Homo sapiens: one gene and its partners. The protein of the gene in region 2 interacts with the protein of the main gene of each other region in a pairwise test. Each region holds a gene or a part of one and is shown on either strand. Other genes may lie near its edges. The genes, in order: AKAP9, FNBP1, TNKS and DNM1.

Region 1 (7,035 bases), on a different chromosome or scaffold from region 2:
TTCATTCATTCATTCATTCATTCATTCAAGGCACCTTTAAGTCCTGTTTGCCTGGGACTCCTGTCTCTTTAAAATGATTTTACTTACCTACTTATGTCCTGATCCATTCTGTAGATTTCATGTATTTATTTGTTTTTGAGACTATAGCCCTCTATTACTTACAGAGGCAAGTAAGTTACTGAAGCAAAACTTTGACCTAGGGCCTCTGCTTGACTTTGTCATGCTGAAGTAATCACCATAACAGATATGCCTTGGCCTGTGTCTGGGCGTAGCCCTATCTCCATTCCAAAATAGAATCCCAAATAAGAACTGGGGGAGAGTATCTGCTTTGCTTTGAAAATTCTGTTTAAACCAAAAGTCCTAGGACCAAGTTGTTATGCCATAAATGGTATAGTTGTCTTAGATGTCACTTGAGGTTCAGCCTTTTAAGCATTGCATATCTCTAAATTTCTGACTGACTTAAGAGCCCAGGACTGAAGTTAAGACAGACCGTTAGGAGTCTGTTTTTGTTGTTTTTCTTTTTCCATAGCCCTTGCCCATGACACACATTGAAGTCACCAGAATACATGTGAGGAACTTTTATTTATTTTTATCTTTCTGAATGTGTCTAGAGTATATGCAGTACTTTAGCTATAGAGAATACTAAATATTTAGAATGTTGATCAGTTAATAAGAAAAATGAAAATGTAACAGTTTGGAGACATCTAAAATCAGACTGGGTTTTTAAACTAAAAATTTTAATCACAGAAATGTTAAGAGAAATTTCTTCTAAGAAGGCCAAAACTACTGTAGTGTTTGCTCACAAGTAGTGTTGGTTACACGAGTTCTAAGTGTCATTATTGTGGAAAAAATTGAGGGGCAGGACCAACATTTACTTTTTGTAGAATTTTTTAAAAGAGAAACTTCTGTCAGTCTTTTGGTAATGAGATGAAGCAGTATAATTTGCCAGAAGCTAAAAATGCCATTCTTACATTTTCATTTTTTTTCCTAAAGGAACAAGATAAAAAAGTAGAAAACTCAAATAAAGAAGAAATACAGGAAAAGGAGACAATCATTGAAGAATTAAACACAAAAATAATAGAAGAAGAAAAGAAAACTCTTGAGCTAAAGGATAAATTAACAACTGCTGATAAATTACTAGGAGAATTACAAGAACAGATTGTGCAAAAGAACCAAGAAATAAAAAACATGAAATTAGAGCTGACTAATTCTAAGCAAAAAGAAAGACAGTCTTCTGAAGAAATAAAACAGTTAATGGGGACAGTCGAAGAACTTCAGAAGAGAAATCATAAAGACAGCCAGTTCGAAACTGATATAGTACAACGAATGGAACAAGAAACACAAAGAAAGTTAGAACAACTCCGGGCAGAGCTGGATGAGATGTATGGGCAGCAGATAGTGCAAATGAAACAAGAATTAATAAGACAACACATGGCACAGATGGAGGAAATGAAAACACGGCATAAGGGAGAAATGGAGAATGCTTTAAGGTCATATTCAAATATTACAGTTAATGAAGATCAGATAAAGTTAATGAATGTGGCAATAAATGAACTGAATATAAAATTGCAAGATACTAACTCTCAAAAGGAAAAACTCAAGGAAGAACTAGGACTAATTTTAGAAGAAAAGTGTGCTCTACAGAGACAGCTTGAAGACCTTGTTGAAGAATTGAGCTTTTCAAGGGAACAGATTCAGAGAGCTAGACAGACAATAGCTGAACAAGAAAGTAAACTTAATGAAGCACATAAGTCCCTTAGTACAGTGGAAGATTTGAAAGCTGAGATTGTTTCTGCATCTGAATCCAGAAAGGAACTAGAATTAAAACATGAAGCAGAAGTTACAAATTACAAGATAAAACTTGAAATGTTAGAAAAAGAAAAGAATGCTGTGTTAGACAGAATGGCTGAATCACAAGAAGCTGAATTAGAGAGGCTGAGAACACAGCTTCTATTTAGTCACGAAGAAGAGCTTTCCAAACTGAAGGAAGATTTAGAAATTGAACATCGAATAAATATTGAAAAACTTAAAGATAATTTAGGCATTCACTATAAACAGCAGATAGATGGTTTACAGAATGAAATGAGTCAAAAGATAGAAACCATGCAGTTTGAAAAGGACAATTTGATAACTAAGCAGAATCAATTAATTTTGGAAATTTCAAAGCTAAAAGATTTACAGCAGTCTCTTGTAAATTCAAAGTCAGAAGAAATGACTCTTCAAATCAATGAACTTCAAAAAGAAATTGAAATACTCAGACAAGAAGAAAAAGAAAAGGGTACACTTGAACAAGAAGTTCAAGAATTACAACTTAAAACAGAATTGTTAGAAAAACAGATGAAGGAAAAAGAGAATGATCTTCAAGAAAAATTTGCACAACTTGAAGCAGAGAATAGCATTCTTAAAGATGAAAAGAAAACCCTTGAAGACATGTTGAAAATACATACTCCTGTTAGCCAAGAAGAAAGATTGATTTTCTTAGACTCCATTAAGTCCAAATCCAAAGACTCTGTGTGGGAAAAAGAAATAGAAATACTTATAGAGGAAAATGAGGACCTCAAACAACAATGTATTCAGCTAAATGAAGAGATTGAAAAGCAAAGGAACACTTTTTCATTTGCTGAAAAAAACTTTGAAGTTAACTATCAAGAGTTACAAGAGGAGTATGCTTGCCTTCTCAAAGTAAAAGATGATTTAGAAGACAGTAAAAATAAACAGGAATTAGAGTATAAAAGTAAACTTAAAGCACTTAATGAAGAGCTTCATTTGCAAAGAATAAATCCAACTACAGTGAAAATGAAAAGTTCTGTCTTTGATGAAGACAAAACTTTTGTAGCAGAAACATTGGAAATGGGTGAGGTTGTTGAAAAGGATACAACAGAACTCATGGAAAAACTTGAGGTAACCAAGCGAGAGAAATTAGAGCTGTCACAGAGACTGTCTGATCTTTCTGAACAATTGAAACAGAAACATGGTGAGATTAGTTTTCTAAATGAAGAAGTTAAATCTTTAAAGCAAGAGAAAGAACAAGTTTCATTGAGATGTAGAGAGCTAGAAATCATTATTAACCACAACAGGGCAGAAAATGTACAGTCATGTGATACTCAAGTAAGCTCTTTATTAGATGGAGTTGTGACCATGACAAGCAGGGGTGCTGAAGGATCAGTTTCTAAAGTAAATAAAAGTTTTGGTGAAGAATCAAAAATAATGGTGGAAGATAAAGTTTCTTTTGAAAATATGACTGTTGGAGAAGAAAGTAAGCAAGAACAGTTGATTTTGGATCACTTACCATCTGTAACAAAGGAATCATCACTTAGAGCAACTCAACCAAGTGAAAATGATAAACTTCAGAAAGAACTCAATGTACTTAAATCAGAACAGGTATGTTTACTTCTTCATATATGGTAAAGCACAATGAAAAAAATGTACATTTCACACTAAGGTTTCACCTTCATAGAACATAAGTTCATATCCTTACAAGAGAATGAAAATGAACCCTCTGATGTAATTTTAACTTGAGCCTATCATTTATTTATCATTTAAGTACTTTTTTTTTTAAACCATTGTTGCCTTTCTTTCAGTTAATCTATCTTGTATATTCTGCTCAGGAAATAAAACACTAATGGATTCAGATTTTCTTTGGAAAGACAAGAGTTTGTATAACTTTATGGAGAATCTCAGCATTAGAAAAGTTATTAATTTCATTTTGTAATTTTTGTTATAATCTCAAAGATTGGTTTCAGCGTTTTTATTTCATAGTGATGTTTTCAAGTCTCTACAACTGAAAATGAACTCCTAAGCTTTTTAATAGTCTCTATAGTTGTTAGGTGGTTATGAAATTATATTTTCCTGGGAGAAAAAAAAACCTTTGATTTAAGTCCTAGAGTTTTTTCAGAGTCTTTATTATACCTGAAGGGGAAAAAACAGTATTAACTCTAAATATAGTTAAAGAATTATATGTATATAATAATAGATCACTCCTGATAATTTATATTTGCCAGATACTGATATTAAAATAACAGGAAAATTCTGCTATCTACAATGTAATGGTGCTAACTAAAGTTTTATGTGTTTCTTCATTTTTCTAACATATTTATTGACTCTCTTGGCAAGTACGAATATAGTGGCCAACAAGAGAGAGGTTTCTGGTCTCAAAGAGCATATATTTTAGTGAGGGAGGCAGATGATAAATGAAACAAGTAGGATAGTGAGAAATAGTGATAAATTCTCTGAAGAAATAAAACAGGATAATGTGATAGGGAATGATGGAATTATTTCTGAGGGCTCTGTTCTGTTCCATTGGTCTATATCTCTGTTTTGGTACCAGTACCATGCTGTTTTGGTTACTGTAGCCTTGTAGTATAGTTTGAAGTCAGGTAGCGTGATGCCTCCAGCTTTGTTCTCTTGGCTTAGGATTGACTTGGCAATGTGGGCTCTTTTTTGGTTCCTTATGAACTTTAAAGTAGTTTTTTCCAATTCTGTGAAGAAAGTCATTTCTGTGAAGAAAGTCATTCCTGATGGGAATGGCATTGAATCTATAAATTACCTTGGGCAGTATGGCCATTTTCACAATATTGATTCTTCCTATCCATGAGCATGGAATGTTCTTCCATTTGTTTGTATCCTCTTTTATTTCGTTGAGCAGTCGTTTGTAGTTCTCCTTGAAGAGGCCCTTCATATCCCTTGTAAGTTGGATTCCTAGGTATTTTATTCTCATTGAAGCAATTGTGAATGGGAGTTCACTCATGATTTGGCTCTCTGTTCGTCTGTTGTTGGTGTATAAGAATGCTTGTGATTTTTGCACATTGATTTTGTATCCTGAGACTTTGCTGAAGTTGCTTATCAGCTTAAGGAGATTTTGGGCTGAGACGATGGGGTTTTCTAGATATACAATCACGTCATCTGCAAACAGGGACAATTTGACTTCCTCTTTTCCTAATTGAATACCCTTTATTTCTTTCTCCTGCCTGATTTCCCTGGCCAGAACTTCCAACACTATGTTGAATAGGAGTGGTGAGAGAGGGCATCCCTGTCTTGTGCCAGTTTTCAAAGGGAATGCTTCCGGTTTTTGTCCATTCAGTATGATATTGGCTGTGGGTTTGTCATAAATAGCTCTTACTATTTTGAGATATGCCCCATCAGTACCTAATTTATTGAGAGTTTTTAGCATGAAGTGCTGTTGAATTTTGTCCAAGGCCTTTTCTGCATCTATTGAGATAATCATGTGGTTTTTGTCTTTGGTTCTGTTTATATGCTGGATTACACTTACTGATTTGCGTATGTTGAACCAGCCTTGCATCCCAGGGATGAAGCCCACTTGATCATGGTGGATGAGCTTTCTGATGTGCTGCTGCATTTGGTTTGCCAGTATTTTATTGAGGATTTTTGCATCGATGTTCATCAGGATATTGGGAATGTTGGAGAGGGTAGTAACAACATTAAATATGGTGGTCAGGAAACATCTCTAGGAGGAATTGACATTTGAGCTGAAATCTGAATGACATTGAAATTAGAGCAATTGTAAAGACACGGGTAAGTTTAAAGAACAGAATGAAGGCTTGTGTAGTTGAGTTTGAGAGAGCGGGAGAGTGGAAGAAGAGTTTGAAGGAGGAAGAGACCAGACCTTGGAGAATCTTGCAGACTTTGGAAGCCATTGGAAAGTTTTCTCTTTTTATTCCTAAATATATCATATTTATGATCTTATATCAAATGTCGAGATATTTTATATTTATGATTTATATCAAATGTAGAGATATTTTATATATTTACTTGCCTAAATAGAGTCAAGAAATTCGAATTGCTTAACGATTTTTTTGTTTGTTTGTTTTTGAGACCGAGTCTCACTCTGTCACCCGGGCTGGAGTGCAGTGGCGTGATCTCAGCTCACTACAACCTCCGCCTCCCGGGTTCAATCAATTCTCCTGCCTCAGCCTCCTGAGTAGCTGGGATTACAGGCATGCACCACCACCACGCCTGGGTAATTTTTGTATTTTTAGTAGAGACAAGGTTTCACCATGTTGGCCAGTTTGGTCTCAAACTCCTGACCTTAGGTGATCCAACAGCCTCGGCCTCCCAAAGTGCTGGGATTACAGGCGTGAGCCACCATGCCTGGCCAAATTGCTTAACTGTTAATGTTCTGTTAAATGTCTGGAATTGTTTTCAAAACCAAAATGTATGGCAGTTACTTGTGAAAATGTCACACATCTTTTAAAATTTTTTAGGAAGCATTTTTGGGAGAAGACCTGAATTTGACCCTCAGATGGTCAAATTTTCTTATTAGGAATTCTAATTTTCTTTTTCTTTTTCTTTTTTTTTTGAGACAGGCTCTCACTGCCGTCCAGGCTAGAGTCTCATGGCGCAATCACAGCATCCTGCAGCCTTGACCTCCTGGACTCAGGTGATCCTCTCACCTCAGCCTCCTGAGTAGCTAGTATTACAGGCATGCACCACACACCCAGCTAGGTTTTTGTATTTTTTGTAGAGACAGGGATTTGCCATGTTGCCCAGGCTGGTCTCAAACTTCTGGGCTTAAATGATCTTCTTGCCTTGGCCTCCTGAAATGCTGGGATTACAGGCATGAGTCTTTGTCACCAGCCAGAATTCTATTTTCTGTACTAAAGAGATACTAAAAAGATACTTTTGATGGCATTCAGATTCCCTCTATTTGACATTGACTACATAAAGTAAAGCCTGTAAACTTCCTGCCCGTTCATCATTACCAAGACAAACCTTTATTGATGGGAAGGGAAGTTCACAGAAGAAATCGAGCAGTGACTTACACAATAGTAACACCTAAGAGCAGCCTAAATATGCTTGAAATAATGTGGATGCCACACAGATATCTCTAATACACTTAGGTAGTTTGGGCAGAAGGAGAAAAATAAAAACATCATAGAAGTCTTTTCAGTGTTGGGATGCAAGGAAGAAGGAAGAGTGGCAGGAATTTTTTAGATACTGATTAATTATTGATGCTGGGAGAGGTCATAGATTGAAGTGTATGTGTTTAAAATTGAAGATGATTATTAGAATCAAAAG
Region 2 (7,035 bases):
CTTGTTTACTGGGTAAAGCTGGAAACTTCCTACTGCTCATTTAAACAGATCCTTGTGGTTGAAGGGTCAGCTGATTTTCTTGCTGCAATATCTACAAAGAGGCCTGGGGTCGGGATGGGTGGCTTTATTGATACTATGCCAGCAAAAGTATCCAAAAGAAATTTGGGCCTGGCACGGTGGCTCACCCTGTAATCCCAGCACTTTGGGAGGCTGAGGCGGGCGGATCACTTGAGCCCAAGAGTTTGAGACAAGCCTGGCCAACATGGTGAAAACCTGTCTTTACTAAAAAAAAAAAAAAATACAAAGATTAGCCGGGTGTGGTGGCAGGCACCTGTAATCCCAGCTACTGGGGAGGCTGAGGCACAAGAATTACTTGAACTCGGGAGGCAGAGGTTGTAGTGAGCCAGGATTGTATCATTGCCCTTGAGTCTAGGTGACAGAGTGAGACTCTGTCTCAAAAAAAAAAAAAAAAAAAAAAAAAGCCAGGCACGGGCTCATGCCTGTAATCCCAACACTTTGGGAGGCTGAGGTGGACAGATCATGAGGTCAGGAGATCAAGACCATTCTGGCTAACACGGTGAAACCCTGTCTCTACTAAAAATACAAAAAATTAGCTGGGCATGGTGGCACACGCCTGTAGTCCCAGCTACTTGGGAGGCTGAAGCAGGAGAATCGCTTGAACTCAGGAGGCAGAGGTTGCAGTGAGCCAAGATTGTGCCACCGCACTCCATCCTGGCGACAGAGCGAGACTCCATCTCAAAAAAAAAAAAAAAAAAAGTTTTTTAAAAAATCAGGCTGTCACTAAATAAAGGTTAACTGGCTGTGAGAATCTTGAAACACGGCCCCTAGCATCCAGAACCCCTACTAGGTTCTAGAGCCCGAATGTGCAGCTACTGCTTGGAAAATCAGCTTTAAATGGACTTGAGCTGATCAAATGAACCCACAATGTAGAGGCAGGCAGGGGCTAATTTCCTACTTGAAAGTAGGAAGGACACAAGGAAATAATTTTCAAAATCAAATAAAAAGAGAATCTGACCCAACACCTTCATTCTGACCCATTTGTAGTGGGTTGTCTATGATCTCGGGGTGGATTCTGGAAATGGGCACAGTGAAATGCCTGGCAACCATCTACGCATGTGACCAACTTCACTATCTCCCCTCCCACATCAATGCCAATTTAAAAATGCAAATTCTCATGTGGCCTAGATTCCTTTCGATGTGGTGAGACATTTTACTTCATTCTGGCTACAGTTAATTGTATAAAATGAGCCAGAAATTCTAAAATAATTTCCAGTAAATCCAAACCTTGCCAATGATTAAAAGCAGAAACAAAACAAAACAAAAACAACAACAACAAAAAAACAAAAGCAAACCCCCAAAGTCTTTGAACAGCAATGTGCTGAGATCTGTGTCTGTGGGGAGAAGCATTTGCTGCCACACCACGTTCTCTTTATAGCCCCACCTGGGCAAGCGTGAGTGCAGCTCTACTTGGAAAACCAACAGAAACCGAACCAAGTGTGAGAGGAAATCACAGCCAAAAGGAGCTGATGCAGGGACACGCTCTGCCTTTTAAGTAACTCCATCTAAACAGCACTAGCACATCTGATCAACTGTCAATTTGGGCCAGGTGCGGTGGCTCACGCCTATAATCCCAGCACTTTGGGAGGCAGAAGCAGGCAGATCACTTGAGGTCAGGAGTTTGAGACCAGCCTGGCCAACAGAGCGAACCCGTCTCTACTAAAAATACAAAAATTAGCCAGGCGTGGTGGTGCACACCTGTAATCCCAGCTACTCGGGAGGCTGAGGCAGGAGAATCGCTTGAACCTGGGGGAGGCGGAGGTTGCAGTGAGCCACTGTACTCCAGCCTGGGCAACAGAGCCAGACTCTGTCTCAAAACAACAACAACAACAAAAACACAAACACAACAACAAAAACCTGTCAATTTGATGACACTTGGAAAATCAGCAATGCAATGTAAAAATCAAGTGGTCAATTCACCAAACTTTTCCAGATTTCAGCTGGTTGTCTGGGATCATGTAGATGGAACAGGGTACTCGTGATGCCCTACCAAGGATGCTGACCAGGTTTAAGTAAAAACACACACTTTTGGTGCCAATATAAGAATCTTATTTACTGCTTTAGTCAAGAAGGAGATGTTATTTCACTTGTGACTTCCTCCCAAGTGAATGAGTATACAATTTAACAAACTAACACAGTTCAGTTTATTAAGTTACAATCTGTAACCACCTAATGTAGCTCAGTGTATGGTGGATACTAGATATAAACAAGAGTAGGGAAGTCTTTGGCACCTGCATGATGCGTGCCGGCTTTTAAATTCAGAAAGATGAGAAGCTACAATGCAACTTTTTTTTTAATCTACAGATACCGCCAAAAGAAGAAATGTTTATCAGATTTTGAATGACATAGCTGTAAGTTGGCGGTTGGCAGCTTTCCACATAAAATTTCATCAGCAAGTGAAACTTGATTACAGCCCAAACTAGACAAGGCAATTCAGGTGCCCAGACCCTGAAGTCCACGTGAGACTACAGGAGAACGTGCATTATGGTGCTTGCCAGCCAGTCTCTTGAGGAACTGCCTGTAACAGTCATGGTTGTGGGGAGAAACAACTCCATTTTTTTTAAGTTTTTTTTTTTTATGGTATTAAATATAAGTCTTAGCACCTTTGGCATTTTTGTCCAAACAGACTTCGACATATGAAGTGGGGACATAACCCTCTTCATCTTCATTTCTCCGAATGCGGGTCCAGCCATCGCCTTTGTCTTCCTCTATGACATACAATGTTTCTCCTTCAACTACGGAAATCGTTCCTTCATTCTGACCTGAAAAAGCAATATCAGGATATGTTAGATGTCTTGGCAAATGCAGGGAGGAAGCAAACAGTGGCCTTCGCAATGAAACAAGTGTCGTCGAAGATGAAGTCCACACAAAATTCACCCCACTCGGACCTTCTCAGATGCACGGACCCCTCACCCACTGCCTCAAAACCATCTCCTTCTGCACAGAAATGTCCAGGTTCTTACCTCTGTCTCTCTAGGGACCCTCTCTAAGTCCTCCAGGGCCCTCTTTCTCCTCCCTCCCAGAATGGTAAGTATTTCTCACTGGATAAATCTTTGGTTCTCTTCTCTAGTCTTCTTCTGTCTCACTTGGATCTCTCTCAGGAGAAAGGTACCCTCGTGGCTCCAACTGCTTCTCTTTTGTCTGTTATTTTTTGGGGGGGTTGTGGGGGATGGAGTCTTGCTCTTGTTGCCCAGGCCAGAGTGCTGTGGTGCAATCTCAACTCACTGCAACCTCCACCTCCCCGGTTCAAGCGATTCTCCTGTCTCAGCCTCCCGAGCAGCTGAGACTATAGGTGTGCACCACCACACCCGGCTAACCTTTCTATTTTTAGTAGAGATGGGGTTTCACCATGTTGGTCAGGCTGGTCTGACTCCTGACCTTAGGTGATCCACCAGCCTCAGCCTCCCAATTTTTTTGTTGTTGTTGTTTGTTTGTTTTGAGACAGAGTCTTGCTCTGTTGCCCAGGCTGGAGTGTGATGCCACTTGTCCCGGGTTCAAGTGATTCTCCTGCCTCGGCCTCCCGAGTAGCTGAGATTACAGGCATGTGCCACCACGCCCGGCTAATTTTGTATTTTTAGTAGAGACGAGGTTTCACCATGTTGGTCAGGCTGGTCTTGAACTCCTGACCTCAGGTGATCCACCCGCCTCGGCCTCCCAAAGCGCTGGGATTACAGGCGTGAGCCACCACGCCCGGCCCAACTGCTCCTCTTTAAACACTGTCCTCACATATTGCTTCCATTCTGGTACTTTCTGCAGCCAAGATTCCACTTTTCCCACTGTCTGCAGCACACTGCCACCTAGACATGGCCCCAACACCTGAAACAACATAGATGAACCTGGATTCACTGTTCTTCCTCCTAACTATATCCTCCTGCTTTTCCACTTCCCTAGACCTCTCTGTCCTCCCAGGAATGCAACTCTGGGAGCCGTCTTGGATTTCCTCTCCTTTTTGTTCCTGGCTTTTGATCAGCCCCGAATATATGCAGTTTGTCAATGGCGGCATCTCTGTATCCATTCCTTGAACAAGGCCCCCAAGACCTTCTGCTAGGATCATTTCAAAGGCTGCCCACCACCCCCCAGTTTTCTGCAAGGCAAAGAGTTTAGGGAGCTGTTAACAGGGCAACAGGGTACGGTGGGGGATGGTTGGAATATGAAGTAAAACTGGGAACGTTTAAACTGGTACGTCTTTCTTATTTTGTCACAATGAACATTTAGTCTATTAAAGGCTCTGAAAAGTCCTGTAGTAAAGAAATCTGTAAAATTTATTTATCCCAGGGCTTCCCAAACTTACTTGAGCTCTGATTGCTAGTTTTAAAAATTTATTCATTATATTAAAATGCAACTTTTTCGTAATTTTATTTATTTATTTATTTATTTTTTAGAGAGGGTTTCACACTATCGCCTAGGCTGGAGTGCAGTGGTACGATCATAGCTCACTGTAGCCCTGAACTCTTGGCCTCAGCCTCCCAAAGTGCTGGGATTACAGGTGTGAGCCACTGAGCCTGGCCTGAGAGCTTCTTTCATGGCCTCCTTATTAACGCTCTGCAGGACATCGTTTCAAGGTTCATTGGTTTAGAAACACTAAGCTAGTTTATCTTTTCTTTCTTTTTTTTGAGACAGAGTTGCCCTCTGTTGCCCATACTGGAGTACAATGGCACGATCTTGGCTCACTGCAACCTCTGCCTCCTGGGTTCAAGCAATTCTCATGCTTCAGCCTCCCGAGTAGCTGGGATTACAGGCGCCCGCCACCACGCCTCACTGATTTTTGTATTTTTAGTAGAGACGGGGTTTCATCATGTTGGGCAGGCTGGTCTAGAACTCCTGACCTCAGGTGATCTGCCTGCCTCAGCCTCCCAAAGTTCTAGGATTACAGGCGTGAGCCACCATGCCCGGCCTGGGCTAGTCTTTCTAACCATCCTCCATGTCTTCCAGTGGATCCTACACATCTGACGATGACTTTCCTAAGGTACAGCTCTGACTGCATCGACACCCTGCTAGGGGACCTCCCATAGCTCCTCAATGTTTGCCACATAAAACCCAGATGTTTCCCTACCTCGCCCCCATTGGCACTTCCCACTCTTTAGTGCCACATTTCACTATTAGGACTTAAGACATCTAAGCTCCAGCCACACCACACCCATTTCTGGCCACACCCCCCATGCCATGGCAAGTTCTCCAAACTTCCTTAAGGAAGCGACCTCATTCTCCCCTGTCCTCCCCGTTCCTCTGTATCCCTCTTCTGGCAAACACTGCAAACTGCCTGCTTTTTTTTTTTGAGAGGGAGTCTTGCTCTGTTGCCAGGCTGGAGTAAAGTGGCACGACCTCGGCTCACTGCCACCTCCGACTCCTGGTTTAAGTGAGTCTCCTGCTTCAGCCTCCCAAGTAGCTGGAATTACAGGCATGCGCTACCACGCTTAGCTGATTTTTGTATTTTTAGTAGAGATGGGGTTTCACCATGTTGGCCAGGATGGTCTCGATCTCCTGACCTCACGATCCGCCTGCCTCGGCCTCCCAAAGTGCTGGGATTACAGGCGTGAGCCACTGCACCCAGCCGCTGCTTGCTCCTTAAGTGTGTCTGCCTGATTTCCCTCTGGGCAGGTGCCATATCATACGACCTGCATCCCCCCACTTCATGGGCCTTTACAAGACAGGAGCGCTATAGATACTAGATATTAAATGAATGGATGAAATGATCATCCTCCCTATCGTCTGCTGCAGTGAAGCAAGCTCTCTGGAAGCTGTTAAGTTATACGAACCAAAAGTCAAAATATACAACCAAATAATAATCATACCATGAGTAGGATAAAAGCATAGTAGAGAAGGATCTGGAAGGCTGCTGCTGCAGCTTTTTTTTTTTTTTTGAGACAGAGTCTCGTTCTGTCACCCAGGCTGGAGTACAGTGGCGCTATCTCAGCTCACTGCAACCTCCGCCTCCCGGGTTCAAGTGATTCTCGTGCCTCAGCCTCCCGAGCAGCTGGGATTACAGGCGCCTGCCAGCATGCCCAGCCAGTTTTTGTATTTTTAGTAGAGATGGGATTTCACCATGTTGGCGAGGCTGGTCTTGAACTCCTGGCCTCAAGTGACCTGCCCGCCTCAGCCTCCCAAAGTTCTAGGATTACAGGTGTGAGCCACCATGCCCGGCCAGATCTGGAAGGCTTCTAAAGAAAGTTCTGGTCACAGAAAGAGAAGAGTGTGGCTAGGCACAGTGGCTCACACCTGTGATCACAGCACTTTGGGAGGCTGAGGCAGGAGTACTGCTTGAATCCAGGAGTTCAACACCAGCCTGGGCAACATAGTGAGACCCTGTCTCTACTGAAAAGTACAAAAAGTACAAAAGTACAAAAATGAGCCGGACATGGTGGTGCTTGCCTGTAGTCCCAGCTACTCAGGAGGCTGAGGTTGGAGGATCACTTGAGCCCAGGAGGTCAAGGCTGCAGTGAGCCATGATTGCACCACTGCACTCTAACTTGGGCAAGAGAGCGAGACCCTGTATGAAAAAAAGGAAGGAAGGAAGGAAGGGAAGGAAGGGAAGGAAGGGAAGGGAGGGAAGGGAAGGGAAGGAAGGAAGGGGAAGGGGAAGGGGAAGGGGAAGGGAAGGTAGGAAGGAAGGAAGGAAGGACAAAGGAATAAAAATGATCAGAAGGAAGGAAGGAAGGAAAAGTGAAAGAAGAGTAACTCAGATATTATGGTTTATAAAAGGCAGGGGAATCCAGCAGACATGAAATGTCACCTTCAAATGTGTAGAGAGCTTTGCACGTCCCTATGGCAGGGAGGGGCTCCTCATCATCAAACTCGTCGTCAAAATCCGTGGCCAGCACCTTCATCTCACTCTCCTGACTCTGCTCCTCTGTGTAACTGCCATCTGGGCTGCTCAAGAAAGGAAAACACAAAGCAACTAAAGCGACTGACCCCAGGGAGGACTCAGATTGAGTCCCTGCGACTGGAGAGCACTTGCAA
Region 3 (6,970 bases), on a different chromosome or scaffold from region 2:
ACTCACTAAGGGGTGTCCTACCTCTCCTTCCAAATTGCTGCCTTCACTGCAATTTCTGGTTAGGTTTTCAGCAGCTTCCTCTGATCAGCCTCCTTTTTCCTGCTCCCACCAAGAAGAACTCTTCCCATTCCAGACACAGCCTTGTGTTTTACTGACTGCAAGAAAAAAGAGAAAGAGAATATGAAGGAGGCCAGTCTAAATCGGAGCCCTTATCTCTCCTGTAAATGATGCCTTTGAGTAGTCAGTTTTTAAATATTGTTCCCAAACTGTTGTTTCTGGGTTATTGGTGACTCAGTACATCTCACCCTTACTCCTTCTAGCTCAGTGGGTTACATCATCTTCTATGATTAATTTGGACTGGATTCAGCAAAATTTTTCTTTCATTTAGCAAACTTTTATTGAACACACGCTGTGTGACAGCACCAATGCTCTGTGAGGTGAAAAAGATATTAGTGCTACCTCGGGCCTTAGTTTCCCTGCTTATGACACATGGCTCTCTAATAAGGGATGAATGGAGCTTAATTGACAGTATTCGAAGTAGAAATAACATTCAGTTTTCTAGATTGTAGGGTTTATACACATTTATTTACAGTTAAGTAGGTGAACCTCAAATTGTTCAGGCACCTATTAAGAAACTGAGTCTATATAGAATATTGGTCACGATTAACAGCCTTTGAGGCTTCCACATTCGGCAAGGCTTTAATATTGTGCCTACTAGAAGGGTGATTTGTTTTTCTTCTTGTCCTTCCCAGGCATACCCAGAGTATCTTATCACTTACCAGATCATGAAGCCAGAAGCCCCTTCCCAGACCGCAACAGCCGCAGAGCAGAAGACCTAGTGAATGCCTGCTGGTGAAGGCCAGATCAGATTTCAACCTGGGACTGGATTACAGAGGATTGTTTCTAATAACAACATCAATATTCTAGAAGTCCCTGACAGCCTAGAAATAAGCTGTTTGTCTTCTATAAAGCATTGCTATAGTGATGAATAGTATGAGTAACTGATACATACTCAACTGCTACTGTTCCCTTTGAGGAAATGTTTACAGGGGCGGCCTTTTAACATATCTCAGGCTCATTTTCATTGCAATTATCCATTTCTAAAACAAGATTGCTTCGATCTAGACTTGGAAATGGAAAATAAGAAAACCAATGCTTTTTCAAATGTTCACAATTCACACACTACATTTGTTTTGTTATGCATGACGTGTCTATAACAAATATACACATACGACAGGCAACAAGCTTGTTTTTGATTTGCCAGACATGCATCATTGGCTATTGTTTGTTTGTTTTTTGTTTTTTTGTGTTTTTTGGGTTACTTTGAAAATGAGCCAGAGCCTTCTTGAGGATATTTTGCACAAAGTCACGCTGACAAAATCATTAGCAGTGCAACCCAAGCTTCTGGCTGAGCAAGATTCAGTTTCCACTTTTTAAAATTTTTTTATTTTGCTCTGTAGCTGCACTTCTCGTTATCATAAATTGAGATGAAAAGGAAAAAACATCAAGTTTTAGTACCTTTTTATGAATTGGCCTATCTTACAAGAGAAGGGCACAAACACCAACCTGACTTAGGAACGCCTAAATTCAGAGAAGTCAAAGCCGGTGAAGGCCACTTGCTCTTTCCAACACAAGCCTGCCACAGAGGTCTTCGGGACAGTACTGGAGATGCAGGTTGACACGGGCTTGAGTTCCAAGGTGAAAAAACTGGGGAGGCTGTGAAGGAAGAGCTGCATTAAGGAGGGTGAGGAGCGTGTGGTTCTGTATCATGGCAGCCCCAATGGATCCAGGGGATGCCTCCAAAAAATACATGCTTCCCTTCCCTTAATCTGTACTGTTGGGATTGTTACCCCTCCAAATTAGCTGCCTTATTTCAAAAGTCAGTGAAATTACTGCACTTGATGAGGGTCACAAAAATACCACTTGATTGTTTCTTTAGTTGAGAATGCTGGGATTCAGACTCGAATAGTGGATAGATACACACAAATGCAAGGACTTTTTTGTTTACTCCAGATTTGGGGTTTATTTTGAGTGGCATGCTTCAAATAGTTCATAAAGATCCTTGCATTAAATTTCTGAACCATTTCTTCAAACTTCTTAGTGTGTTTAGACAAGGAGAACAAAAATTGAAACCAAAGCCCTTTCTGTTATTTTTTCAATGAAGGTGAGAAAGAAATACCATACAATTTTCTTTGTGAAATTACTGTTTATTTTCATCAACATTTACCAAGTGCCATTGACATTTATAAAAAAAAATGATCCTTTATAGTTCTTACACTTGCCCTTTTCACCTTAACTGAATATGAATTGAGTGCACTAACTTATTTACTTGATATACTGTGCATCTACTCTGCTTTGAAGCGAAAGAAATATAAACACGAGGAGGAATAGGAAAGACAGTGTGACACAAACTTGCCATTGCAATTCAAAGCCCTGAAAACGATGGGTTTAATGCAAGGTGATTAAGCTGTGACCTCCTTTAATCTCCTGAAGCAAAATAAAATGGTTACATGCAAAACTTCTAGAAATAGACTCTTAAAATATATACATTTTGCTTTGATTTTGGCTTCAACCCAGTGCTGGAACTAGGCATCCAGACTAGTTTGAATGTTTGTAGCTGAATTTTTATGGGTCCTCAAAATTAAATCGAGAATTAGCCTCAGTTGTTGCTTCTTTTGAAGTTTCAGTGACCCAAGCTGGGTGTTTGTGTCTTGGCTACTTGTTTAATAGCACTAGAATTCCAGGTGAAGCTTTGAGAGTTGATATTCATTAAGAGGGCTTTTTTTCCCCTTCTTTCCTTCTCTTTTGCTGTAACAAAGGGTTGAAGAAATTGCCATCTGTGTAGTTTTCAGTAGCTGTCAAGTGTGTCTTACTTACCTTCCCCCAGACGTAGTTTAAAATGGTAAACACAGCTGTGATTTTTAGTTAAGTAAAAGAGTTAATATGATATAGATATGGAAAGCTTTATGGCTTCATTAAAAAGATAAACCACTACCTAACTGTGGTTGTATGTTGTTTCCATCATACTAACTAGATGAATGGATGCGCCAGTTTTCATCTTGGTCCTTACACTTGAGAAGTTAAACTGTGGTTCAGTATTTAAACTGCCAGTGTTATACGTCTCATGCTCTGTGTGCCAGGTGAAGGTACTGTGTAAGGAAGACATTTGCGGTGCTTCTTGTCCTATAATGATTCAAGTATATAGTAGTTCTTGAAAGAGTGTGCATATATTACTCATCTGCTTAAGAGAGTGGGTTAATGGATATATCAGAGGAGCCAAATACATTTTTTTCAGAACTTGAAAACCAAAGGTCATCATGAGTGCACTCAAAAGTTAGGACAAGTTTATTACATTTGGGATTTTCATCTGTAGCCGTATGAAGAACCCTTTCCAATATAAAAGCATGGCATTAAATTAGGCTGAAGTCTTTTATTTTTTGTATATGTACTATATAGAAATACTAGCAAGTTAGGATCATCCAATATGGCCTACCCCGAAATGGCCCCTCTGTTTCCCTAACCACATGGAAGAAAGAATCTGAACGTCTCCACCGGCTCTACCCGAGTTCCAAAACTAAAGGGCTTCTCCAGACCTGATGGTTCCAGTTTACCTGCTGTTGGCCTGCTGGATACTTGACTCAGGCATAAATTAAGTGCCCTGGTCCCGAACTTTCTCCCTGTATTTGACCTCCTTCCCTCTTTCCTAAATTACTAGTCTGGAATTAAAATTAGCTCCAGCAATGACCTTTGACTCCATTCATTTTCTCCTCATCTTGGGTCTTAAAAAAGGAGACCAGATACCTCCTAGCTTTTGTATCACAACCAGGAATGGGTATTAGGCCTCATGCGCTTTGCTCAGAACACTGCCGCTTTGTTAACAAATGACAGCATGGAACCCAGAGTTTTGATTCGATGCAAAATAACAGCAGTGCAACCAGGATTCTTGTTTTCCTTTTCCTTCTTGGAGTTTGGAATTTCTAGCTTTTCAAGCAGCATAAGTAGAATCAACATTAGGATGTTTTCATGAAATAGCATCCTTATACTTCTTTGAGCTTGATGTTAGTGGCTAGACTGATTTCCCTTTGCTCTCAAAATACAAAGTGCATTGAAGTATACAGAGAAATGCCTGAATATGGCAAGCAAATAATGTAGATTAACATTCTATTATTGTATCCGTTTTACAAAAAATAAAATTTTGATATATGCCGGAGAACGGCATTAGAATGCAATAAGTTGTCTAGGTTTTTCTGTTTCAGTGTCTCTCCCAATGGCACGAAGGGTTATTGGGCATTGTCCCCACCCCCGCCTTTTTAACATGTGCACTATCTGGATTCCTGTAAATGGCCTTGCAAACAGAAGTGGTGTGTATTTTCAAGCACCTTTCCCCCATTGTATCCGAATCCCTCTTGTGTGATATCTGTGACAAATAGCCTTCTTCTTGTGTTTTCTGTTGGACTAATTGTCTCACGTAAAGCTATAGACCTTACTAATTTGGCAGGTATTCAAAACTGCCATTAAGATAGGATTTCATGTCAGATACGTATTTAAAGAGTAAAGTCAAATTTGTTTAATGTCAGATCAGTGACAGAAGTGAAAAGAAAGTAATTGTGAAAGTGATGTTTGAGCTATTGTACACATCTAGCATATGGAAAGCAAATGCACTCGAAAACTACTATTCTAGAACATGAGGCTTCTTCAGCAACTTGTGCACTCTGCCATTAATAAATTAAATTTTTCCCCTCTAGAAAGCCTTAACTATGGCGGAAACTTTTTAACCTTTTATATTTTAATAAATAAAACATTGTAGTCCCATTTCTTAGTGTTTGAAAGGTGTGTCAGTGAGTCGGCCATGTCTCCATGTGTTTCAGACCTGTTCATCTTATTTTATGATGGTATATTTCATAAGTAATATTCCCTTACATGCAATGGAGCTGATTAAAATTAATCCATTTCAATTTCTCCATATTGGAACTTCCTCAGCTACCAGATTTCTGGTTTGGAGAAGTGCTGGAAAGATTTCAAAGCCTATTCAGTTGTGTATGTGGGGATACGACAGCAACTGTGATACCTTGTAGAATATGAGTGATATGCAAGCTGTGTTTTTTAATTGTTTTAAAATGTAAATTATGGTTATGCTAAAGTGAAAACCTAGAGGAAGCTAATGATTTTATATACTTTGCACGACCAAATATGGTCGTAGTATGACGAGTTTTATACATTGCCAGAGAGTTCTGCCTCCTCTGAAATAACATTCGCACTGTAGATTGCATTTCGGCTTTTCCTCCTTTCACATTCTTTTTTGCTTTACACTTCACGTCTTCGCACCTGCCCTACCTCCCATCCTTTCAAAGAGGTTTCTTTCACGTTCCAGAATTCAGATTGTTCTGTGATTTCTTTTACATCAGTCTACCCATTTCTGCAGGCAGCCCTGAAAGCCCTTGTGTTGATTCAGAGTGTTTGCAGAGAAATGCAGTTGAACCCTGGTAGTGGGGTGTCCCTCACACACCCGCGCACCCCTCCCAAAGTTCAGGATGAAAGGCTAGAAAACCCATTCAAAGTTAGGAAAGAACACAGATCTTTGAGGCCGATAGCCTAGACCTAGAAGATGACCTTGAGTATGTAAACATTGTCTCCGTGACACAAAACACTGAAACTCTTCATGTGCATATAACACCTGCTTCTGCTCCCATTGTTTCAAGCTCATCTTATCTTTGTAGTAGTAATGTTTGTCTTTGATACCTACAAACTAAAAAGGTACTTTTATCAAGGTTTCTCAAAACATTTACAAAACCAGCTTTGAGAAAATGTTATGTTGCCTGGCAACAGCACTCGGAGTAGTAATTGTGTTTTCTCATTGTGATGTTGGTCTGTGTGAGCAACCAGTGTAGTGACTCTTTGGTTCATTATTCGTGTTGTTTTTATTTTTAGTCTCTGTGTGACCCAACAGTGGCAGGGGTTACAACCCCCTCTCCTTTCTTTTTTGTATTTATCTATTTGTAGGATTGTCAGATCAAGTACAAGATGCCCAGTTAAGTTTGAATTTCAGAGAAACAATTTCACGTTAAGAATGTTTCATGCAATATTTGGCATATATTTACAGTAAAAGCATTCATTATTTGTCTGAAATTCAAATTTAACTGAGCATGCTGGTTTTTCTCATTGTTTGGTTTTTCTAAATCTGGCAATCCTACAGCTGTGGTCATGGGAAATCACCTACAGCATGTTAAAGTCCTCTAGTCATCATCTCGTCACCTGAAATGGAAGTCCTTTTTCCCTCACCCTCCACTTCTTTCCAAAGGAGGGCATCAAGGAACTTAACCTGCCTGCCTGGTGGGTTTCTATTTAAGACATCTTTGTGATTATATTTAACCTGCAATTGTGCTTTGGCTTAATGTCTAGCTCACTGTACTTGTAAATGATTAATATTCAATAAAACCATTTTTAAAGTACACTTGTGTGGATAGCAGTTAGCTCTTAAGTATTTTCATTTTGCCCTGCTTGTTCATTTCTGCCTGACCAACCTTAACACAACTGACTTGAAAAACTGTCAGAATACAAATACCAACCCTCCCTCTCCATCTTCCAGTGAGACCTGGGTTTTAAGTGACTTATCCTCACGTCTCAGCCCACATGGCAGTTACTGAATAACTTCTGCAATAGCACGGGCAACATGGGTTCCTTTCAGAAATATCTCTTAAACAAACAGGCTGACACTTTAGAGCCAGACCTCCTACCAGGTCCAAAGGCAGCCCAGGGGCCTTGCACAACATGATTGCTCACAGACTCACCTTCTCCACCTCTCGGGGGAGACGGAGGGGAAGAACGCCTGCTTCATGCAACAGTCAGTATTAAATACTTAGCACAGTGCCTGGCGCAGAGGACTAAGAAAATCCTTCCATTCTTCCCCTCTTCTTTCTCCATGCCTAGGGGTCCGTTACATAGCAAATTTGAACCTAGAATTTTATCTGTA
Region 4 (7,000 bases), 1.7 Mb from region 2:
TTGTTTCCCCAGGCCCCATCCTGGCTTGGTCGCCTACCTGATTGAGGACCTTCTGCAGGTAGGGCGTGCCCATACGGTCAGCCAAGTGGCGATAAGATGGATGGGAGAGGAAGAACTTTCGTTCAGCAGCCAAGGCGGCGGTAATGTCCTTCTTGCCATCAATGTCCTTCTGGCTCCGGTTCACCACTCCAATGTAGCCTGTGAACAGTATCAAGGTCAGGGCAACCAGCCTCAAGAGGAGGGGAAGGGTGGGGAAGGGCTGGGGAGTGGTTGAGGGGCATGGCCTGCTTACCTCTGCGCAGGGGGAGCAGCTTGTTCTCCAGCACATCACGGGCATCTGTGCCCTCGTCCATCAGGTCCAGCTTGGTGATGACCCCGATGGTGCGCTGGCCTGGGTGCACCAGCAGGAGGGCCGTCTACAGCTGCACCCGCTCTCACACACAATTCCATGCACTCCCACTCCCATCCCCCTGCTCTCCTCGGCCCCCTGCCTGCTCACTGCCTCCTCTCTTTCCCCCTTATTCATTTTCCACAGAGTAGCCAAAATGATTTTTATTTATTCTTCTTGTTTTTTTATTTGTTAGAGATGGGATCTCGCTTTGTTGCCAGGCTGGTTTCCAACTCCTGGCTTCAAGCGATCCTCCCAAGTTGGCCTCCCAAAGTGCTGGGATTACAGGCATGAGCCACTGCACCCAGCCTTTTTTTCTTTTTTGAGACAGGGTCTCACTCTTGCCCATGCTGGACTGCAGTGGTGCGAGTAGGGCTCACTGCAGCCTCAACCTCCTGGGCTCAAGTGATTCTCTGGCCTCAGCCTCACGAGTAGCTGGGACCACAAGCGTGCACCACGGTGCCCGGCTAATTTTTAAATTTTTTGTAGAAATGGGGTCTCACTAGGTTGCCCAGCCTTGTCTCGAACTCCTGGGCTCAAGCAATCCTCCCGGCTTGGCCTCCCAAAGTGCTGGGATTACAGGCATGAGCTACCATGCCTGACCCCCAAAGTGATTTTTAAAGGTACAAATCTGATCCCACCGCTATTCTTAGACCGTTCAGAGGCTCCCCTTTACACTAAGAATAGACAGCCTGCAAGCCTGGGGTTTTGTGCATTGGCCACCGGGTGGGAACCTACCCTGGGGGTCCACCTCCTTGGCGACCTTGAGGGCGTCAGAATTGGCCAGGTCAGAGTTGGCGGGGGACACGGCCAGGATGAGGCAGTTCTCCTTGGTGACAAACTGCATAAGCATGTCTCGGATCTGGAACTCGATGTCGGGAGGTTGGTCCCCCACCGGGACCTTGGTCATTCCGGGCAGGTCCACCAGGGTCAGGTTCAGCACTGGACAGGGCGGCGAGAGGGCGGGCTCAAGGCGAGGGGCGTGGCCGCGGGCGAGGTTAAAGAATAGGGCGGGGTTAGAGAAGCTGCTTGGGAGCAGGGTGGCAGGTGGGTGGGACTAGGAAATCTCAGGGCGAAAGTGGCAGTCTGTTGGAGGCGTGGCCGGAAGTGGGCGGAATCACGGCAGGGTGGAGCTTGGAATAGGATGATGCAGAGGCAGGGTCATTCTAGGGGCGGAGTCTGCAGGAGGAGCGAGGCACGCAGAGGTGCGTGGCCAAGAAAATGATTCTTAGAGGTTAGGGCGGGGCCAGGGTCCTCACCGTGCGGCGAGTAGACGCGGAGGTTGATAGGCACCGGCGAGATGCCCTTGTTGGTGCCGGTGACCCTGTCGGTCTCGGCCTCGATCTCAAGGCGCACCTCCTCGAAGTCGGTGAATTTCTTTCCCTTGCAGTGCAGGAACTCGGCATATTCTGCTCCAGAAGCGGGCAGGGGAAGGGCAGTAGGCATCAAGGTCTGGAACCCCACCTGGGGGTTTTCATCTCCCACCGGTAATAGAACCCCCTAGACACACCCAAGCAGAACCACCACCCACGTCTCCATTATGTATTTTGATCCCCGCTATCCCTAAGGGGAACGAGGCCCACAGTCACACAGCAAGCAAGTTCGTGGCCAGGCTGGCCCTCAGCTTGGGGACGGGGGAGAGGCTGGAGTGGGCAGGCCTGGCTGCTGGTGAAGGAGGGCACGTACCTGTGGTTGCATTGACCAGCTGCAAGACCAGGGGACGTCGGGTGACAATGCCAGATCCTCGAGGCAAGAAGTCCCTGCAATGAGTTGGAGGTCAAAGGAGGGTCAAGATATGAGGGGGCGCCCTCTGTCCCAGGGGTACCTGTCCGGCCCCTGGGAAAGCCAAAGCTCCTTCCAAAGTGCTGGCTCCACCGCTCCTTAGCCCAGGGGCTTCAGGTAACTAAGAGCATATGGCAGCCCAGAAAGGTGGAAAATACTTTTCCTCAAGTCGCCTGGGTCACAGAATTTATGCATCTGAGCTGCCAAGAGACTGGATCAACTCCTAGATACGTCCTGTGTTGGTTTTGAACCAATAGGAAGTCCCTGCCCCAACTCAGCCACGGCCATTCAGCCCCAGAAAACTGAGGCATGGGGTCTCCCACATGCCTATGTGTCCAATGCCCACAGAGTGGATCCCAGGAAACAGAGCTGTAACTTCTCCCCTCCCTTCCGCTGTGGGGCAGGGCAGCATCTCACTTCCCCTTCTCCAGGCTCCATATGGCTAGGGTTGAAGAAGAGTGGGGAAGGAGGTGGCAAGGAAAAGGACTCATGGGCCGGGCGCGGTGGCTCACGCCTGTAATCCCAGCACTTTGGAGGCTGAGGCGGGCGGATCACCTGAGGTCAGGAGTTTGAGACCAGCCTGGCCAACATGGTGAAACCCTGTCTCTACTAAAAATACAAAAAAATTAGCCGGCGGGGTGTCAGGCACCTGTAATCTCAGCTATTTGGGAGGCTGAGGCAGGAGAATTGTTTGAACCCGGGAGGCGGAGGTTACGGTGAGCCAAGATCGCGCCATTGCACTCCAGCCTAGGCGACAAGAGCAAAACTCCACCTCAAAAAAACCCACAAAGAAACAAAAAAACTCATGCTTCTTAGTGCCTACTGCATGCCAGGCGCTTAGTGGGGCTCCATACTGTAGCCCCATGAGGCAGGTGCTGTTATTACCCCCATTTTGCAGATGAGGGAGCTGCACCTTAGAGACATTCAGGTTGCACAGCCAGTATCTGGCAGAGCAGACCCTGGTCTCGGATATATTTGACTCTGCAGTGACACTCCCCTGCCCTTCAGCCCCCTGTGAACCGAGCCGCCTTTGAAGGACTGGACTGAGAGGTCCCAAAGTCATCCCCCGTCCCCAGACCTGACAGTCTATAGCTTAGACATCTGCTCGTGCCAATGTCAACCTCAGCTGTCCTTTTGGCTGACTCTTGTGGGTGCCGGTTCTCTGTCCAGTCAGCTCTTTTCATCCACCTCCCTCTGCACCACCCTCCAGCTGGCGCAAGCACAAGGGTGAAGGCCTCTCCAGGAATCAGGATGTCAGAATTGCCAGTCATGGGATCTCCAGGGCCCAGGAAAGGGGGGAACAGGTTGAAGCCCGAGGGACCATTGAGACACAGCCAGCGCCTTATTCATGGAGAGGCCCAGGGAGGGAAAAAGATACATTCAAGCTCTACAGAGCCAGAGGTGGAACCCAGGTCTCTTGCTCCCAGCCCAGAGCCTGACCCAGACTCACAAGTCTTCTTGCACCCCAGGGTCAGGAGCTAAGGGTCTTAGGTACAACAGACTAGACCCAGAGCTCCTAGGTTCAAAGCCCCCTCTTGAAGCCTCTCCACTGCCTCACGTCTGGGGAAGTGGACGCTGCTGGGGAGGAGTCAGGAATTATACTGGAGAAGGAGAAGGATGGTAAGCCCTGTGTATATTCATCATTTCTGCGCACCAGGCAAATGCTTTTCATTCTTGCCAGACAGTGAGCAGGGCAGCCTCTTTCTGTCTGCCACTGTATCCCAGTGCCCAGGACAGGGCTTAGCACACAAGGGGCACTCAATAAATTCTGATTGAATCTCCAAGTCCTCGAATCTGTGCTCTGATATAGAGATTATCATTTTACAGAGGAAGCAGCTGAGGCTCAGAGAGGTGAAGTGACTCACCCAAGGTCACACAGCAGAGTGGGGATTCAAAGCTGAGTGTCTGTTGGACCCTCAGCCTGGAAACTTCCTCATTCAATGGTGCTGTCTCAAACCCAAGAAGCCAGACTTGGCTTTTTATGTAATTCAATTAAATTCAGTCTGTGCCGGGCCCTGTGCCGGGCTCTGGGGATGGGAGATGATGAGTCAGACAGTTCCCACCCTGAGGAACTCACAGTGTGGTGGGAGAGACAGACAAGTAAACAGATAATGCAATGCAGCGTGGTATGTGCTAGAACAGAGGTGTGCCAGGCGGCACAGAGGGAGGGGGTTTGCTGGGGGGTGGGAGGACTTCCGGTCTCAATCTCTCCCATCCTTTACTCAAAGACTCCTTTGGGGGCGTGACTTCCAGTTTTGGGAGTCCCCCAGGGCTGTGGAGATAGAACAGCTGTTCTCATAGAAGCTGGGGTGGGTGTGGGGGCCGGGGGTCCACCCTCTTCTCCACCAGCTCCTCACCAGCAACACCATGGCAACAGTAGTTGCCATGGAAACTGCAGGAGGGGCTGGAAAGGATGGGACTCCCCACAAAGAGTCCCCCACACAGAGACGTGGACTTTCCCTGGAGTTCTTCCCTGAGAGGCCTCTCCTTGAGCAGACAGGCCCACGCAGCCCTGGTGAGCCTGAGGGGTGGAGGTCTCCAAGGTGCCACATAGCGGGTGTGGGGAGCCCAGGGCCCAGCTGGCAAGAATGCTGGGTGGTCAGGGTCTGGGCCAGCTGCCTGCTGCCTCCCCAGGGCTACTTAAAGGGCAAGTAGCTTCTGGGAAGCAGAGACTAGAGGCAGGGCCATGTCTGGGGGTCAACCCCTCCCAGAGCCAAGATCTCCTGGTGCCCAGATGGGGAGGTGGCCCATCTCTGTCATGGCCCAGGTTCTCAAAGTGAGGCCCTCACGCGGCCTGCATCAGAATGCCTTGGGTAGTTTGTCCAGACGCATGCTCCTCAGGCATGCTGGGCTAGAATCTCAAGAGGGCTTCATGGGGAGGCAGAATCTGGGTTTTAAATGGATCCTCAGGTGGTTTCCACACTCCGTGTTAAGTTTAAGGACCATCTGCCCCATGCTGAGGAGCCAGTGCCAGGCTGGCTCCTTCATCGAATCCTACATTGGCCTTTCCTTGGCCTGGTGCCTGGTGCCAGGACCCGAGAGGTCTGCTTCCCAGTCTCACGTCTGGACTGACAGTGGGGAGGACCAGCAGGTCCCCAGGTCCGGACAATGAGCTCCTCACTCACTTCCGGGTTCCTGCCTGGCACAGGCCCCGCACGTAGTAGGCGTGCAGGCAACACGAGAAGGAATGTGCATGACTCAGCAGCTCCCTAGCTCTTCCCTTTCACCTGGACACACTGTCCCACTTTAGCCCTCTGTTTAAGGGTCCCCTAGGTGGCCCTCCTTCTCCCCAGTGGGGATCCAGACTAGATCCAGCCTCCAGCTCCTGGTTAGGCTAAGGGAGGACAGAACAGGTGCCCAGAGAAAAGTATCAGGCCCACCAGCCTCGGAGGCCGCGTGCTGTGCCCAGCGTGGGAGGGGCGGCTGCTGGCATGCCAGTTCTCCCCACTCATTTGGAGCAGATGGTGGGTTCCCAGGGAGGCTGTGCCTGGCCATCTGCAGAGGCACCTTCAAACGTGAAACATGAGGGGACGAAACAAACACCTCTCAGGAACCCCAAATGCCACACTCCCTGTCTGAACTGGAGTTGTCACCGTGAGAGGGGTCTGGAGAAACTGAACCCAAGGGCTGATGTGACCCCTACCCCTACCCCTACTCTAGGACCTGAGACTTGGGATCAGAGCTCTGGGATCCTGGTTCCCAGGCCCTGCTGAATGCAAATGACCCCAGGAAGTAACGTGCTTAACTGGGCGTGCACCCAGTGCCGGTCATTCTTCTATGCCTCCTCTTTTTTGGGCTCTGATGTCAGATGGACCCCACATTGAATGTCTGAGCTGTCATGTAGGAGCTGTGTGGCTGTGCACAAATGACCATACCTCTCTGAGCCTCAGTTTCCACATCAGTAAAATGGGTTGCTGTGAGGCTTATACAGACTGATGGCTGAACCAATCGTGGCTACTATGATTATAAATAACGATAGCTTGCTGGGCATGCTGAGACCACAGGCTGGACTCCCACAGCCTCGTCACCAGAAGAGGCAGCGGGGAGAGAGTTGGACGGTGGGTTTCCTGGAGGATGGCAGTGAGCTTGGGGGTGAGGGCAGGATATTTCCAGCCAGATCTTGACCCTGGAGGTGGAAGGCAAGGGGGGTGGGCAGGGGCGTGCTCTGAAGCAGGGAGTTGGGGTGCCTGCAAGGGAGTGGGTAGGCCAAGAAATACAGTTGGGAGGAGGTGAGGCTACCCCCAGGCAACAAGTCGCTCTCTGTTCCTGCTGCCCCAGGGGACCCTAGGCAGCCCCGTCACAGCTCATGAATTTCAAGCTGAGGTCTGAACACTGCAGGGCAGTTCTGGCCTTGGCTTTCCTTGATGTTCTGATGGCCCCGGGAGCAGGGACTAGGCTAGACTTGTTTGTCACAATATCCCAGCACCTAGCCCTGGGTCTGGCATGTAGCAGACTCTCAGGACACCCGCACTGACCAAAAGAGGGAATGGAAGATGAGCTCTACCATCGGCTTCATTGTATAGGGTAGAAACTGAGGCACAAAAGGGAAGAGTCTTGCCCAAGATCATGGTGCAAGTTGGTGACAAGGTAGGGCTCCTGAGTCCGGGTAGGTGCTCTCTCCACAGCAATCTTTCTCCCTATTAAGCAGAGCCTATTACCTTCCCTTATTTCTTATCTTCTCATCCTTCCTACTTTCTTTCCCACCCTCCCTCCCTCCCTTCCATCAATCCAAGGGTTGATGACTTTGTATTTTCAAAAGGGAAATAGATCTCTTTTGCCTCTAATTTTTAAAATCATGTGTTCTCCATTTTAAAAGATTCAGAAAATGAC

Evidence for each region.
Region 1: the proteins of FNBP1 (region 2) and AKAP9 interact in a two-hybrid assay, tested with the Homo sapiens proteins (one study listed by BioGRID).
Region 3: the proteins of FNBP1 (region 2) and TNKS interact in binary tests that used the Homo sapiens proteins (3 or more experiments, as listed by UniProt).
Region 4: the proteins of FNBP1 (region 2) and DNM1 interact in binary tests that used the Homo sapiens proteins (3 or more experiments, as listed by UniProt).

What each region holds. Positions count from the first base shown.
Region 1 is NC_000007.14:91,999,855-92,006,889, forward strand, and holds part of AKAP9 (A-kinase anchor protein 9), read left to right. Parts: intron 1-993; coding exon 994-3,381; intron 3,382-7,035. UniProt on the Homo sapiens protein: Scaffolding protein that assembles several protein kinases and phosphatases on the centrosome and Golgi apparatus. Required to maintain the integrity of the Golgi apparatus. Required for microtubule nucleation at the cis-side of the Golgi apparatus.
Region 2 is NC_000009.12:129,893,157-129,900,191, forward strand, and holds part of FNBP1 (formin-binding protein 1), read right to left. Parts: intron 6,949-7,035; coding exon of another isoform or gene 6,946-6,948; coding exon 6,809-6,945; intron 2,841-6,808; coding exon 2,682-2,840; coding exon of another isoform or gene 2,662-2,681; exon of another isoform or gene 2,105-2,661; intron 1-2,104. UniProt on the Homo sapiens protein: May act as a link between RND2 signaling and regulation of the actin cytoskeleton. Required to coordinate membrane tubulation with reorganization of the actin cytoskeleton during the late stage of clathrin-mediated endocytosis.
Region 3 is NC_000008.11:9,775,898-9,782,867, forward strand, and holds the end of TNKS (poly [ADP-ribose] polymerase tankyrase-1), read left to right. Parts: intron 1-752; coding exon 753-839; 3' UTR 840-6,449; downstream 6,450-6,970.
Region 4 is NC_000009.12:128,213,379-128,220,378, reverse strand, and holds part of DNM1 (dynamin-1), read right to left. Parts: intron 2,149-7,000; coding exon 2,075-2,148; intron 1,798-2,074; coding exon 1,648-1,797; intron 1,331-1,647; coding exon 1,127-1,330; intron 392-1,126; coding exon 293-391; intron 199-292; coding exon 38-198; intron 1-37. UniProt on the Homo sapiens protein: Catalyzes the hydrolysis of GTP and utilizes this energy to mediate vesicle scission and participates in many forms of endocytosis, such as clathrin-mediated endocytosis or synaptic vesicle endocytosis as well as rapid endocytosis (RE).